Linked DNA regions of Homo sapiens: region 2 is linked to region 1. Evidence: fine-mapped expression QTL. Tissue or cell type: whole blood. Region 1 holds a variant in brackets; the other region holds the start of a gene. All regions are shown on one strand. Distances are between the middles of the regions.

Region 1 (8,104 bases):
CACAAGCTATGCTCCACTTACTCTCTACAGTTCCCATAACTTTCAAAATCTATTTTCCTCCTCACACTTGACGCATATACTTTCTGCCCCCCAGCTCTTTCAGCTATACTCACTCTTTGTTGAGTCTCCCACAGTTACTATTGTTCCTGGCCCAGACTTCAATCCGGCCTCCCACATTATTCCGGATACCACACCTGATCCCCATGACTGTATCTCTCTGATCCACCTGACATTCACTCCATTTCCCCATATTTCCTTCTTTCCTGTTCCTCACCCTGATAACACTTGGTTTATTGATGGCAGTTCCACCAGGCCTAATCGCCACTCACCAGCAAAGGGAGGCTATGCTATAGTATCTTTCACATCTATCATTGAGGCTACCACTCTGACCCCCTCCACTACCTCTCAGCAAGCTAAACTCATTGCCTTAACTTGGGCCCTCATTCTTGCAAAAGGACTACGAGTCAATATTTATACTGACTCTAAATATGCCTTCCATATCCTGCACCACCATGCTGTTATATGGGCAGAAAGAGGTTTCCTCACTACTCAAGGGTCCTCCATCATTAATGCCTCTTTAATAAATACTCTTCTCAAGGCTGTTTTACTTCCAAAGGAAGCTGGAGTCATTCACTGCAAGGGCCATCAAAAGGCATCAGATCCCACTGCTCAGGGCAACGCTTATGCTGATAAGGTAGTTAAAGAAGCAGCTAGCTTTCCAACTTCTGTCCCTCACGGCCAGGACTGGACAGTACTTTGCCCTTCTCAGAATTAGAGCCTGTCCTCGAGATGCTACAGGGTACTGTCCATTTGAACTTTTATATGGACGCACTTTCTTGCTCAGCCCTGACCTCGTCCCAGACACCAGCCCTCTAGGCAACTATCTTCCAGTCCTCCAGCAGGCTAGACAGGAAATTCGCTAGGCTGCTCATCTTCTCTTGCCTACTCCAGATTCCCAGCCATATGAAGACACCCTAGCTGGATGATCAGTTCTTGTTAAGAATCTGACCCCTCAAACTCTACAACCTCCATGGACTGGACCCCACTTAGTCATCTATAGTACCCCAATGGCTGTTCGTCTGCAGGATGCCCCACCATTAGGTTCATCATTCCAGAATAAAGCTGTGCCCGTCAAACAGCCAGCCTGATCTCTCCTCTTCCTCCTGGAAGTCACAAGTGTTCACCCCTACTTTCCTTAAACTTATTTGCATTTCTGAAGAGCAGTAATAACCCTTATGAGCCTAATACAACCCTTCATTCTATTAGGTCTATTCATCCTTACCCTACTTTTTGCAATAGGGCTTTACGCAGTCACCCCCACTACTTGTTCTGTGCCCCAAAAACTTGTCATCCCTATCTTCTGTCTAGTCATACTCCTATTCACCATTCTCAACTACTTGTAAATGCCCTGCCCTTGTTTACACTGCTGGTTTACGCTTTTCCTCCAAACCATTGTAGCGGATATCTCCTGGTACTATCCCCAATCCGCCACTCTTGACTCCCTCTTAGAGTGGATAGATGAACTTTGCTGACAGGGCACCCTCCGATACTTTTACCCTGATGAAGTCCTATTCTTTACTTTTATACTCACTCTTATTCTCATTCCCATTCTTATGCCATCCTCTACCTCTCCCCAGCTATCTCCACCACACTATCAATCTCACTCACTCTCTCCTAGCTGTTTCTAAACCTTCTTTAACAAACAATTGCTGGCTTTGCATTTCTCTTTCCTCTAAAATCACAGAGGCCTCGACTTACTCACTGCTAAAAAAAAAAAAAAAGGGGGACTCTGGGCCAGGCGCAGTGGCTCATGCCTGCAATCCCAGCACTTTGGAACACTGAGGTGGGCAGATCACGAGGTCAGGAGATCGAGACCATCCTGGCTAACACAGTGAAATTCTGTCTCTACTAAGAATACAAAAACTTAGCTGGGCGTGGTGGCGGGTGCCTGTAGTCCCAGCTTCTTGGGAGGCTGAGGCAGGAGAATGGTGTGAACCCGGAAGGCGGAGCTTGCAGTGAGCCGAGATCACGCCACTGCACTCCAGCCTGGGCAACAAAGCAAGAGTCTGTCTCAAAAAACAAAAACAAAAACAACAAAAAACATTTTTTAAATGAAGAGTGTTGTTTTTACCTAAATCAATCTGGCCTGGTATATGACAACATAAAAAAACTCAAGGATAGAGCCCCAAAACTCGCCAACCAATCAAATAATTACGCTGAACCCCCTTGGACACTCTCTAATTGGATATCCTGGGTCCTCCCAATTCTTAGTCCTTTAATACCTGTTTTTCTCCTTCTCTTATTAGGACCTTGTGTCTTCCGTTTAGTTTCCCAATTCTTACAAAACCGCATCCAGGCCATCACCAATCATTCTATATGACAAATGCTCCTTCTAACAACCCCACAATATCACCCCCTACCCCAAAATCTTTCTTCAGTTTAATCTCTCCCACTGTAGGTTCCCATGCCACCCCTAATCCTGCTCGAAGCAGCCCAGAGAAACATTGCTCATTATCTCTCCACATCGCCCCTAAAAAATTTTCGCCACCCCAACACTTCACCACCATTTTGTTTTGTTTTTCTTATTAATATAAGAAGACAGGAATGTCAGGTCTCTAAGCCCAAGCTAAATCATCATATCCTGTGACCTGCATGTATACATCCAGATGGCCTGAAGCAACTGAAGATCCACAAAAGAACTGAAAATAGCCTTAACTGATGACATTCTACCATTGTGATTTGTTCCTGCCCCACCCTAACTGATAGGATATATTCTACCCCCCCACTTAAGAAGGTGCTTCGTAATATTCTCCCCGCCCTTGAGAATGTACTTTGTACACCTATCCCAAACCTATAAGAACTAATGATAATCCTGCCACCCTTTGCTGACTCCTTTTTCAGACTCAGCCCACCTGCACCCAGGTGAAATAAACAGCCTTGTTACTCACACAAAGCCTGTTGGTGGACTCTTCACATGGAAGCACGTGACATAATCCACCCCTTGTTTAGCATATAATCAAGAAATTTTAAAAAATTAAAACGGCAACCAGTAGCCCTCAGGGCTGCTCTGTCTATGGAGTAGCCATTCTTTATTACTTTACTTTCTTAATAAATTTGCCTTTACTTTACTCTATAGATTCGCTTTGAATTCTTTCTTGCTCAAGATCCAAGAACCCTCTCTTGGAGTCTGGCTCGGGACCCCTTTCCGGTAACAATTTTTGGAACAAAACCCAAACCTCTGAGGATTGCATGAAAAGATCTTTATAAATAGCTTCAGACTTCCTCTCCAGCCCCATTTCCCATCCCCACTGGAAGCTTCTCTCTCTTACCTCCCAATCCAGTCACACCAAACTTACCTTTTCACACACTGCCTATTCACTCCACCCCTGATCCTGGGTATATCTTTCCATATCCCAATTCCACCTTCACGTGATGAACTACAAACTCATCCTTCAAGACTCAGTTCAGGAGTTATCTTCAAAAAACTTTCTCTGGCCCCCTCCATACATTCTCACATAACTCAGTGCTTACTTCCATCAAGGCATGATAATGGTTCCATTATGATAATGGGATCATACCTGGGTTTAATTGTTCTTATCTGTCTTACCTCTACACCTAGACCACTAGCTTCTTGGAAGCAGGGACCAATGTGCTATCTCTGGCCCCAGCTCACCACAATATATGGCACACACCAGGCAGTCAGTAAACACACCCTAAACAAACAGTCCCCAGGCAGATTAAGCTCAGTGTGATTTTTCTGTGTACTCTCATTGACCACCTTTCATGCCGACAATTGAAACCATTTCCCTAGGAGCAGCCTACCTAGTAAGTCAACAAGCTACAGTAACAACTGCAGCTTGATTGCGATGTGTAAAAGTGCAAGTGTTCTATTTTTCTTGCAAATTCTGTGCTTTGTACTGCATATTGTGTAGAACCAAAACTCTCACATGCCTCACTAAATAGACAGTGTTGACCCTTGAGGTGCCTTCCTCAGCCCAAGCAGCAACATAGCCTAATATAGACCCACAAGCCCTTATCTGAAGCCTCTTGGGCCAAG[T/C]GCATTTTGGAATTCAGAATGTGGGAGATTTTAGGAAGATAACACATTACCTGTATCAAATACTACATAACAACCCCAGCAGGGTCTGAGGCAATACCCAGTTAATCAAACGCTTTCATATTTCCACAGTATAACTTACGAAGAGTAATACTTAGTGAGAGAAACAAAGCCTATAAATAGTCTCATGTCAGTTCAAGCAAGTCTTACTGCCAAATTGAGCTTGGGTCAAACTTACAAGAAAAATTTGTTCCAGCCTTCAGAGCTTTCAGGACTTCAGAACTGCTGATAAGGGATTGAGGATGGTAGTTAATGAGCATGGCCTGACAATACCTATATGCATTAGAAAGGACTGGAGTATATGTCTGTGTGCATAGATACCACACTTATAAATATTCACATATGCTGTATTTGTATGGACTCAGACACAGACACATGGAAAGTCTGGAAGGGTGCACAGCAAAATGTTAACAGTAGTCATTTCTCAGTGATTAGATTTCTTTTTCTTTTTGCTTATATGTATTTCCTATAGTTAGCTATAATAACATGTTTTTTGTGTTTTATATACATACACAGGCTTTGGAGTCAAAGACACGTTATATTGAGAAAGTTATCTAACTTCTCTAAGCATCTGCTTCCTCATGTGAATAAGATAACAGTGTCTGCCTCATACAATTGCTGTCTTCTTTTCCCATAGTTAACTTGAGGGTATCCCTCACTGCATGACCAAGAGGTGTTCTAGAAGCCAAATAAGATCTGTTGAAGGCCCAGACCTATAAAACAAAGATAGGCAGCAAGGCCTTGATTTTAACATCCGGTAGCCAGGCCTACCACTGAATTGGTGTCTGGGTTTTTCTTTTTCCTTTTTTTTTTTGAGATGGAGTCTCGCTCTGTCACCCAGGCTGGAGTTCAGTGGTGCAATCTTGGCTCACTACAATCTCTGCCTCCCAGGTTCAAGCGATTCTTGTGCCTTAGCCTCCCAAGTAGCTAGGATTACAGGCACCCACCACTACACCCAGCTTATTTTTGAACTTTTAGTAGAGATGGGGTTTTGCCATCTTGCCCAGTCTGGTCTCGAACTCCTGACCTCAAGTGATCCGCCCACCTCGACCTCCCAAAATGCTGAGATTACAGGCATGAGCCACTGCAGTCTGGGCTTTTTCTTTTTCTTTCATTTTTTTTTTTTTCTTTTTTTTGAGGCAGAGTTTTGCTCTTGTTGCCCAGGCTAGAGTGCAATGGCACGATCTCGGCTCACCACAACCTCTGCCTCCCCGGTTCAAGCGATTCTCTTGCCTCAGCCTCCCGAGTAGCTGGGATTACAGGCATGCGCCACTACGCCCGGCTAATTTTGTATTTTTAGTAGAGATGGGGTTTCTCCATGTTGGTCAGGCTGGTCTCGAACTCCCGACCTCAGGTGATCCGCCTGCCTCAGCCTCCCAAAGTGCTGGGATTACAGGCGTGAACCACTGCGTCCAGCCAGTCTGGGCTTTTTCTAAAACATGCCATCATACAAAGAAAAAATAAATAAATTCAAACCAAAATGGAAATACCCCATTTGTTTTGAGAATCATCTGAGAGGCAGCAACATTATTTCTTCATTCAATTGCTCCTTCTGCCTCCTTTTGCTCTATTTCCTCCTCGAGGCCCCTTAGTTATTTGTAGGTACTCCTCAAGCCCTAGACCAGTACTGTCCAATAGAACCTTTTTGATGATGAAAATATTCTATAACTGTGTTGTCCAATATATATTGAACACTTAAAATATGGCTTGAGACCGGGCCCAGTGGCTCATGCCTGTAATCCTAGCACTTTGGGAGGCCGAGGCAAGCAGATCAGGCAGTCAGGAGTTCGAGACCAGCCTGACCAACATGGTGAAACCCCGTCTCTACTAAAAATATAAAAATTAGCTGGGCATGGTGGTGGGCGCCGATAATCCCAGCTACTCGGGAGGCTGAGGCAGGAGAATTGCTTGAACCCGGGAGGCAGAGGTTGCAGTGAGCCGAGATTGTGCCACTGCACTCCTGCCTGGGTGACAAAGCAAGACTCCGTCTCGGGGGAAAAAAAAAAATAATTATATATATATATATATATATATATATATATTTGAGAAAGGGTCACGCTCTATCACTCAGGCTGAAGTGCAGTAGCGCGATCTCGGCTCACTGCAACCTCTGCCTCCTGAGTTCAAGCAATTCTCCTGCCTCAGCCTCCCGAGTAGCTGGGATTACAGGCATGCGCCACCACACCCGGATAATTTTTGTATTTTCAGTAGAGACATGGTTTCACCATGTTGGCCAGGCTGCTATCAAACTCCTGACCTCAAGCAATCAGCCTGCCTAGGCCTCCCAAAGTGCTGGGATTACAGGCATGAGCCACTGTGCCCAGCCAAAAAACTGAAGTTTTTAATTTGATTTTACCTAAATTAAGTTTAGCCTGTAATCCCAGCACTTTGGGAGTTCACGATGGGAGGATGGCTTGGGACCAGGAGTTCGAGACTAGCCTAGTCAATCAACATAGCAAGACCCCATCTCTTAAAAATAAATAAATAAATAAAATAGCCATACATGGCTAGTGACTAGCACATTGGACAGTGCAAATCTAGACCTTGTTCTTCCTCTTCTACAAGGAACCCACCAGCCATCCTGGTTGATTATGAATGAGGCTGTCCAGCCCTGTCTGAGCTCAGCACCTCCACCATCCCCTGGGCATTTCTACAAGACGTTCTGTATGCAGGGGGGACCCAGGTAAAACTGTAGTCTGATTCTGGACTCTTTCCCTGAGCTCTCCCGCCTATTACCAGCACCATCATTCTTCCTATCAGCCAGGTGTACAGTCTTGCCATCGGCTCACCTCTCTCCTTGGCCCCCCAGAGAGAGTTAGTCATCCATTTCTTCAGTCTCACAGCTGCCTTCCTCCAGGCTACCATCTCCTCACTTGCTACCTCAGGAGTCTCCCAACTAAGAGATCTTCCCACTTCTCCCTACCCATTTAGCCTCTGCACTTGGCCTGATTAAACTCTGATTTCATCTCTCTGCTCTAAATCTTCCTGTACAGGTTAAGACCCAAACTGGTTCAATTGGCATCTGACGCCCTTTGCAAATGGCTCTACTCTCCTTCATCAATCCATCACCCAAAGACAGCCTGATCTAAAAGGATAGATTCTTCACACATGCCATCCGCACTCCTGCCTTCATATGAAGTTACTCCTACTTTTTGGCCACCTCTCCTTCGAAGCCCAGCCTCAACTCCCACCTCCTCCTTCATGAAGCCCTCCCCAGCCACATAAGTTCTCAGTAGTCATTTCTCTGAATTTTGAGTGTCTTCCTGTCTATATAATGTGTCTGGCACTTTAAGAAACATTAGACTGTTTTGGAAAATGCCTTGGGCTTTGGAATAAAATAGAGCTGGTGATGTTACTGACTCCATCCATCACCTCTTATGAAACCTCAAACAAATTACTTAATTTGCTTCCTCATTTGTAAAATGGAAGTAATGCTACCATATTTACGGAGACCTCAAAAGGATAAACAAATACAATCTACATGGGTCACGAACCTAGCACAATGCCTGGTACACAGCAGACATTCAGGAACTGTTCCTCTCCCTCTTCTCCATCACTCCTAATCCCCCACTGCTTTAATAATGATGACTACCATTTATCAAGTACCTCTCATAGTTAGGTAATACGTTCAATGCTTCATGCATTGTGTCTGATTATTAGCCTTGTTTTACAAATAAGGAAATTGAGGCCTAGAGCAGATAGCAGACATGCTCAAGGACATAGAGCCAGTAAATGGTGCAGCTGACATTAAAACCCAGATCTGCTTGACTCCAAAGTCCCACAGCCTCCCATTTTGCATGCATGAGGACATCATCATCAATGAAACTATAAACTCCCAAGGGTAAGTACGATGTGAATAGAAGGTTTAAATCTGTTTGGATAACCAAGCAAAAGTATCAGCACAGTCTGTACAGGATATGTGGGAGTGTGGCTGTCACTGCTGGGTGGAGATCACGTTCTACCCTTCCTGAGCACCTATTAGGTCTAGGA
Region 2 (8,104 bases), 31 kb after region 1:
CTTGGGAGGCTGAGGCAGGAGAATGGCGTGAACCCGGGAGGTGGAGCTTGCAGTGAGCCGAGATCGCGCCACTGCACTCCAGCCTGGGCAACAGAGCGAGACTCTGTCTCAAACAAAAAAGAGAAAAGCGTGATTTGGTGTATGTAAAACTTCTAGCACAATGCTGGCGTGGGATAATCATTAACTCATTATTTGCTTCTATTATTATTATTGTTGTATAGCAAAGCAGACAGACATTAAATATGTCAATATAAAGAATTACATCACTGATTGAGAGAGGCTGGCAAAAATAAGAAAAAGGCAAGCCAGGTGTGGTGGCTCACGCCTATAATCCCAGCACTTTGGGAGGCCAAGGCAGGTGGATCATCTGAGGTCAGGAGTTCAAGACCAGCCTGGCCAACATGGCAAAACCCCGCCTCTGCAGAAAATACAAAAATTAGCTGGGCATGGTGGCGGGTGCCTGTAATCCCAGCTACTTGGGAAGCAGAGGCAGGGGAATCACTTGAACCTGGGAGGCGGAGGTTGCAGTGAGCCAAGATCATGCCACTGTACTCCAGCCTGGGTGACAGAGTGAGATTCTGTCAAGAAAGAGAGAGAGAGAGAGAGAGGAAGGGAGGGAGGGAGGGACAGACACATGTATCCATGGGATACAAAACAATTTCAGGATTTTTTGGGGGTTTTTTGTTTGTTTTTTGAGATGGAGTTTCACTCTTGTTGCCCAGGCTGGAGTGCAATGGTGCGATCTTGGCTCACGGCAACCTCCGCCTCCCAGGTTCAAGCAATTCTCCTGCCTCAGCCTCTCGAGTAGCTGGGATTACAGGCATGCACCACCATGCCTGGCTAATTTTGTATTTTTAGTAGAGACGGGGTTTCTCCATGTTGGTCAGGCTGGTCTTGAACTCCTGACCTCGTGATCTTGGCCCCCCCAAAGTGCTGGGATTACAGGCGTGAGCCACTGCCCTGGCCTAATTTCAGGGGTTTAACAAAGGCTGCCTGGGAAGAGAAATGCATGAATGGAAGCCCTGAAGGCTGAGTAGGAGTTGGCTAGGTGAAGAGATGTGAGGCTTGCAGGAGGAGAGGACAGCGTGTGCAGGGGCTCCGGGGTGAGAATGTGTGTTATCGGGGGAGACGGAAACAGCAGCAAGGAGGAGAGTGATGGGAGATGAGCCCACGGAGATGGGCTGTGCCAGATCCTACAGGGTCTTACTTGCTGCAATAAGTTTAGCAGGGGGTGCTCTTACTTTACACCATTCTTCTTTCTCTGAAAATCAGGCACCCCTGCCCCGAGTGGGACCCAGACCAAGAGGACCACTCACCAAGGATGTAGAGTTCACCATCTGGGGACACTGTGGGGAGGGAAATGAGAATGCCCTTAGCAATTGAGCTTACTCCCCCTTGCCCCCCCATCAAGGACAAAGATGAGCTGGGGGGCCCATAGGAGAGGATTCATACCACCCAGCCCCCTGTGGCACCTTCTTCCAGCGTAAAATCCCGCGAGACTGGCACTATCTGGTCCAGAGAGACATCGTCCCCGGTAATGGCCATCCTCCGGTGCGTATAGAGGAAGAGACTAAGGGCAGGAAGCAGAGGTGAGGATGGGGGCCCGCTGGCTGTCCCTCAGCCCTATCTTGGAGGTCTCGGGGTGCTCACACTCGCTCGTTGGTCCCTAACACTGTGCTGGTGGTGCCCTGGCTAGGCACACTCCTCATGCCATCTCTGTCTGTGGTGCCCATCAGAGACTGCAGTTTTATGGATGAGGTCATCAAACCAGAACTTTTCTCATCTGCAGGAGCCCCTGATTGTTAGTAAAACACAAACACATGTTTGATCTAACCATGGTGCATTCTAGCACTGTGTGTGACAGGAACAGTGCAACCTTAGCTACCCACTTCTCTCCCTGAACCTGTTTCCCATCTGTAAAACTGGGGTGATGGATCAGAAAATGTCTAAGGCCCCCTCCCTCCCAGCTCCTAGACCCTGAGTCACTTACCAGCTATGAGACCTTTGACAACTATTACTCTCTCTCTGCTTCTGTGTGGTATGTGGGTGTTACTAGACAACATTTATGGAGCACTTTCTTTTTTTTATTTATTATATTTTTTAAATTATTTGAAATAGAGATAGGGGTCTCACTATATTGCCCAGGCTGGTCTTGAACTCAAGCAGTCCTCCCAGCTCAGACTCCCAAAGTGTTGGGATTACAGGCATGAGCCACTGCACCCAGCCTTATTGAGCACTTTCTACACACCCCATGGTGTTCGTTTTTTTTTTCTTGTTTTTTTTTTTATAGAGACAGGGTCTTGCTGTGTTGCCCAGGCTGCAATCGTAGTTCACTGTAATCTCAAACTCCTCGGCTCATGTGATCCTCCCGCCTCAGCCTCCTGAGTAGCTGAGACTACAGGCATGCACCACAACACCCAGCTAATTTTCTTATTTTTTGTAGAGATGGAGCCGGGGAGCGGGAGGTGGGGCGGGGTAGGGGGGGCGGTCTCGCTATGTTGCCCAAGCTGGTCTCGAACTCCTAGGCTCAAGCAATCTTCCTGCCTCAGCCTCCCAAAGTGTTGGAATTACAAGCATGAGCTACTGCACCTGGCCTAACTCACTTTACTCTTTAATATGGACAAATCGAGGAGTAAAACAACTTGCTCAAGATCATGTGGTTCCACCAGGTGCGGTGGCTCATGCCTAAAATTCCAACACTTTGGGAGGCTGAAGTGGGAGAATGACCTGAGGCCAGGAGTTCCAGCATGCAGCTATGAGTGCACTACTGCACTCCAGCCTGGGTGACAGAAAGAGACCCCGTCTCTAAAAAAAAGATCATGTGAGGCTGGGCACGCTGGCTCATGCCTGTAATCCTAGCACTTTGGGAGGCCAAGGCAGGTGGATAACTTGAGGTCAGGACTTCAAGACCAGCCTGGCCAACGTGGTGAAACCCTGTCTTTACTAAAAATACAGAAATGAGCCAGGCATGGTGGCGGGCACCTCTGTAATACCAGCTCCTCAAGAGGCTGAAGCACGAGAATTGCTTGGACCTGGGACGCAGAGGTTGCAGTGAGCCAAGATCACCCCACTGCACTCCAGCCTGGGCAAAGACCAAGACTCCTTCTCAAAACAAACAAACAATAGATCATGTGGCTTGTTAGTAACAAAGCCTGGGTTTGAACCCAGGCATTTGGACCACGAGGCTCAAGATCTGGACTAGTATGTTAAACTGTCTCTTCTCAAGAAACTTCCTCCTTAGATCTTGAGGATTATGAGTTAGTACGTGTGCAGGGTTTAAAATATAGTGTTCAAAAAATATTAACTATCATTGTGATAATTATTCTAGGAGACTCAGACCCTGCCCTGGAGGGACAGTTGAAGTTCAGCTGGAGGGTGCAGTGATGAACAACCCCATGGCCCAGACAGGTGGGGACCAAGCCCCTCACTCACGCGTGTTCCTGGCCGCCGTGCTCCAGGCGGTAGCGCACGAGTCCCAGGAGGCGGCTCTGCCGGCTGTCCCCCTCACACAGCACACCTTGCACCGCCTGCGGCTCAGAGTCAAGGGAAGACAACCCAGAGGCGAGGCCTCTCCCCACCCAGGCTGTCCCACCTTCCCTCTGTTCCCCTGCCCCCCCAGATTCACTGTGTGGCCTTGGGTGAGCACTCAAACCATGTGCTGAACTAACAGACAAACAGGCTCTCTAAGCCTTCCTTATCTATGAAATGAGGATAATAATCCCCAACTTCATAGGGAGTTAGGAGGATAACTGCGTATTTAAAGCATTTGGCTGAGAGTCCAGGACTCAGTAAGTACTTAGTAAATACTGATTTCCTTCTCCCCTGATGGTTCAGAGGGGCAGGAGAGGGGATAGACACCTCGACACCTTCCATTCCTCTTCCCAAGGCCAGGGCAGGCTCAGGGCCGCAGTTAGCACAGGAAGGATATGATGACGCAGTATTCCCCCTCAGCCAGCGTCTCCTGGATTGCCACAGACTGGTCCATGCTGGCCCCTGCTGAGCGCACACACCCTGTGGGAGGGGAGATAGGAGCCCCGCTTTGGTCAACAAGTTACGCATGGGGTGGTGGAGCTGCCTCAGAGGGGTTGGGGGCAGGAGGGAGGGGCCTTTGCAGAGGGAGATGGTACCGGGGAGGCCTGATCCTCCTCCTCCTCCTCTTTGTCCTCCCTAGAATAGGCCTTTCAGTTTTTAGGGATAGGGGTCCAGTCCCTTTGCCCCGCTGGGATCTACAGTTTGCTATACTGCCTTTGTCTGGGAGGGCATCCAGTTGCTCTTGAGTGTGGTCTATCCTTGTTGGAAGTGGGGTACGTGGATTGGAGAAGGGGACCTAGTCCCTTTGCTCCTAGGACATGGCTCTTCCTCTCTTTTGGGGACAGTTTTTGTTCTGCTAGCGCCTCTCTGGGAGGTGTCAGTGGTGTGTCCATGTGGGGTTCAGGGAACATCCCCTTACTGTCATTCAGGAGGGTCCCATTCCTCTTTCCTTGGAGACAGGAAGTGTCCCATTGCTGCTTGCCCTTCACCCCCGCCCCAGCAGGCCCATTGCATCAGCTGCAGGCCGGGGGTTGGGGGGTGTCCCAGCCCTCAGCTTGCCCACTCCCTCCTGCCCAGCCCTGCCCTGGCTTTCCTGCTCTGCTCCCACCCACAGCTCCCTGACATTGTCACCTACCTCCTGAGCTGTCACCACAGGGCGCACGGGACTCCGCTGCCCCAGGTTCCGGGACAGTGACTACATTTCCCAACAGCCCCTGCGCCACATGGTGGTCAGTCAGCCTGCAAGTCCCAGCATGCCCGAGTCAATCGTGGGGTGGGGAGTCTCTCCATCCGTGTTAACCCCTTAGGCCCTGGGGTACACTGGGCTTCCTATACCAGAAAGGTTTTCTAATGATTGCCCTCACTCCCATCCCCAGCCCTCTAGGTCATGGGGCCAGAGCTTCCCACCCAGAAGGAAGATGGTCACATTTTATCTTAGGGGAAGAATATAATGCATTTTTATTTTCTCCTTAGTTCCATCCTCAGCTCTTCTCACTCCAGGGTAGACAACCCGGACCTCTACTGAAACTCTTCCCCTAAAATAACTACCTTCTCCTGGTTTAATGGAGGGAGAACCAGACTATGAAGAACCATTATGTCCATTTTCCAGGTGGAGAAACTGAGCCTTGGATAGGTTAAGCAGTTTGACATTAAGTCCTGCAGCTAGCAGGTGGCAACACTGGGACTCCACTGAAAGTCTGACTGCAACTCCTGGGCCATTTATACCGCTACACACTGCCCTATTTCCTCCCTTAGCCCCACCCAGCCCTCCTGCCACACAGGGCTGTTTGAGGCTACTGGGTGTGAACGCACTTTATAAAGGGTATGACACTGTTCCTGTCCGGCAACGTCCTTCCCCTGATCCGCCTGGCTTTGTGACCTTGGCCAAGACCTTTCTTCCCTTGGGACTCAATTTCCCCATCTAAGATAAGGAGGTTACCCAAGATGGACAAAAAGAGCCAGCACAGGGACTGGGCACAGTGGCTCATGTCTGTAATCCCGGCACTTTGGAAGGCCAAGGAGGGAGGATCGCTTGAGGCCAGGAGTTTGAGACCCCATCTCTAAAAAAAAATTTTTTTAAATTTAGCCGGGTATGGTGGTGCATGCCTGTAGTCCCAGCTACTTGGGAGGCTGAGGTGGGAGGATTGCTTGAGCCCAGGAGTTCAAGGCTGCAGTGAGCTGTGATTGCTCACCCAGCTCAGATAAGGAATGCTAGGATCATTCTCACTTGGCCTATTGGCTGTTTAATTAAGCTGTAAGCTCCCGTTGGACAGGACTATGCCTTTTCATCAACATACCAGCAGTTTCTGGCACACAGTTATCTATGGAGTTAGTGAATTACTTTCTGAACTATTTTAATAAATACACCTTCTCTCAAGCTTTGGCCCAAACTGAAGGAATGGGCCTTCAGTGCTGGGGAGGGGGTGACTGTTGTGACTTGTGAACAGTTTCCCTTCCTCTTTCCCCAAGTGAAGTGGCCATCCTAATGACCAGTTCAACTTTGCATATGTAAACCCCTTCCAGAAACAGTCGTTGCCTTCTTCTCAATCCATTTCTTTTCCTGGAAACATCCACAGCACAAATGGAGCTCAAGTTTATTTGAATTCAGTGTCTAAGTCATGTGGACGATGAGGGGAAAGGGGATTGACTCAGACCCTTAGGATCAAGGGGTGGGGTCACTGCAGGGAAGCAGAGGAACCCCAATTCCAGCCCTGCTCTAGTGTCAAAGCCTGGCGAGGAGGGTCTGGGCAAAGTAGATGGGGCTGTGTGCTTTTTATGATGAAGAAACTGTCCCTGCAGGATTTGGGGGTCCTCCCACTGGGTGGGGGTCAGGCAGGAGGTTTTCTGTTTTTCCAGACAAACCCTATCCTCTCCCTGAGATTAGGGCTGAGGGCCTGCCCCCTTGGGGGGTTCCATGGTCAGGCCTAGGCCCTAGAAGGGGAGAAGTGAGGAGCCTTAAGCCCAGAGCTGTGGGCTTGATAAAGGCCTTTTACTAAAGATGCAACTACAGGAATCAGAGCTGGAGGGGGACCTGAAGGCTTGTAGATCCTACAGGGTCTTCTTGACTGCTGCTCCCAGATTCTGCTGGGCCCAGCTAGGGGAGCAGGAATAGGAGCAGAGCAGAGTGGAGGAGAAGTAGCATAGCCACAGCCAGGGCCCAGTGCAGGGGGTTTCTGGTGGCCCCAGGAGCTGCCTGGTTGAAGTGAAGTTTCCCATCCAGCTGAAGGCAGCTGCCTGAGGTTGAGGCTTGACAGCACTCCTGGTAGCAGGGTGGGGCCACAGCCCCATGACACTGGGAGGTCCCTGCTTCACAGGCCTGGCTGCAGCCTGCAATGTAACCTGAGCTGGAGCATTTCAGCTGCAAGAAGAGGTGGGACCATTCATCTTCCCCTTGCCCCTCTTCCCCACTCAAAGGCAGAAAGTGTTAAGTGGGTCATGGGTTGAGCTCAACCTCCTTGGACCCCTAGCTTCCTGCCCACAAGATCAGTGAGTTCCTAGTGAACATACAGGGTGGTCAGAAAAAAAGGGGCACATCGTGGAGGTATGGAAAATTCCAGTTGCTGCCTTTGGTGTTGGCATCATGCAGAGCTGAGGGGGTCAAGCTTGCTAGACCCCACGGCTGCTCCCAGCAGGTCTAGCTCCAGCCAGATTCTACTGCTGAGCTACCCACTCCAGGTAGAAGGAGAAAGCCATGCAGCTCTGAGGGAGGAGAGCTCCCTAATTCTTGGAGCATCGCAGGGCTCACCTCACAGAAGTCCAAGCCCTCAGGGCACATGGCCACAGCTTTCGGCCCTTTGAAACAGTCACCACCTTGGCAGGAGAAAGTAGCACAGATTTTCTTCTGGAAGAGAAAGCAGGAGGAGGTTTGGGAGCTCTGTGCAGACTGAACAGGTGGTAAATGCTGGACAGAGGCAAGGCTGGAGCCCTATCATGCCTGTGTCACTGGCCCCATCCACCACACGCTGTCCATTCCTGCCTCCACTTCCTAGAGGAGGCAGGTGAGAATGAGACACATTTCCCTGGAGGGCTGGCAAGGTGGTGGTCACCAGGGGTGGAATGGAATGTAGCTTGTCCTCTGGGATCGTCGGGTGGGCTAGGCCTAGGAGCAGAGCAGGACTGCCTGGGGAAGTGCTGTGACACCTCTGTAAAGCCCTGACCCCCTGCCTTGCCCCCAGGGAGAGCATGATGTGTGTGGGCAGCTCACAACCTGACATCTCCCCCACCACGGCCTAGATGAGCACAGGTGCTTGCCCCAGGCCTCTTTGTAGCTTGTTGGGGAGGGGAGTGCTGGATGGGCTGGACTGGGGAATGGTGGGGATGTTAGGAGTGGGGAATCTGAGAGGGGGTGGGGCACCAAAGGTAGAAAGCTCAGACTTGGGGAGCTAATGAGGAAGGCAGAGTTTTTTTTTTTGTTTTTTTTTTTTGTGGTGAGGTGGAGTCTCTCTCTGTCGCCCAGGCTGGAGTGCAGTGGTGAGATCTTGGCTCAGTGCAAGCTCCGCCTCCCAGGTTCATGCCATTCTCCTGCCTCAGCCTACAGAGTAGCTGGGACTACAAGCGCCCAGCACCACCATGC

The links. PIP is the estimated chance that this variant, and not a neighbour inherited with it, causes the effect.
Region 2: INPP5B starts here. The variant in region 1 is fine-mapped to the expression of INPP5B in whole blood (TOPMed, PIP above 0.99).

What each region holds. Positions count from the first base shown.
Region 1 is chr1:37,911,184-37,919,287 of GRCh38, forward strand. All of the region lies in intron 7 of INPP5B (inositol polyphosphate-5-phosphatase B), which reads right to left. It overlaps LOC124904043 (a long non-coding RNA gene), which reads left to right. Exons shown (of 4, transcript XR_007065876.1): 3 at 6,680-6,797; 4 at 7,108-7,473. Among named protein-coding and RNA genes, the nearest start is that of INPP5B, 32 kb to the right of the region's middle. The variant T/C (reference allele first, on the strand shown) is at 4,058.
Region 2 is chr1:37,942,324-37,950,427 of GRCh38, forward strand. It overlaps INPP5B (inositol polyphosphate-5-phosphatase B), which reads right to left and starts at 4,730. Exons shown (of 24, transcript NM_005540.3): 1 at 4,667-4,730; 2 at 3,929-4,011; 3 at 3,433-3,527; 4 at 1,473-1,570; 5 at 1,317-1,346. The coding sequence starts at 3,985. LOC105378651 (a long non-coding RNA gene) reads left to right here. Exons shown (of 5, transcript XR_001737983.3): 4 at 1,412-1,589; 5 at 2,956-3,304. RefSeq lists enhancers at 4,552-5,081, 4,659-4,898, 6,288-6,961.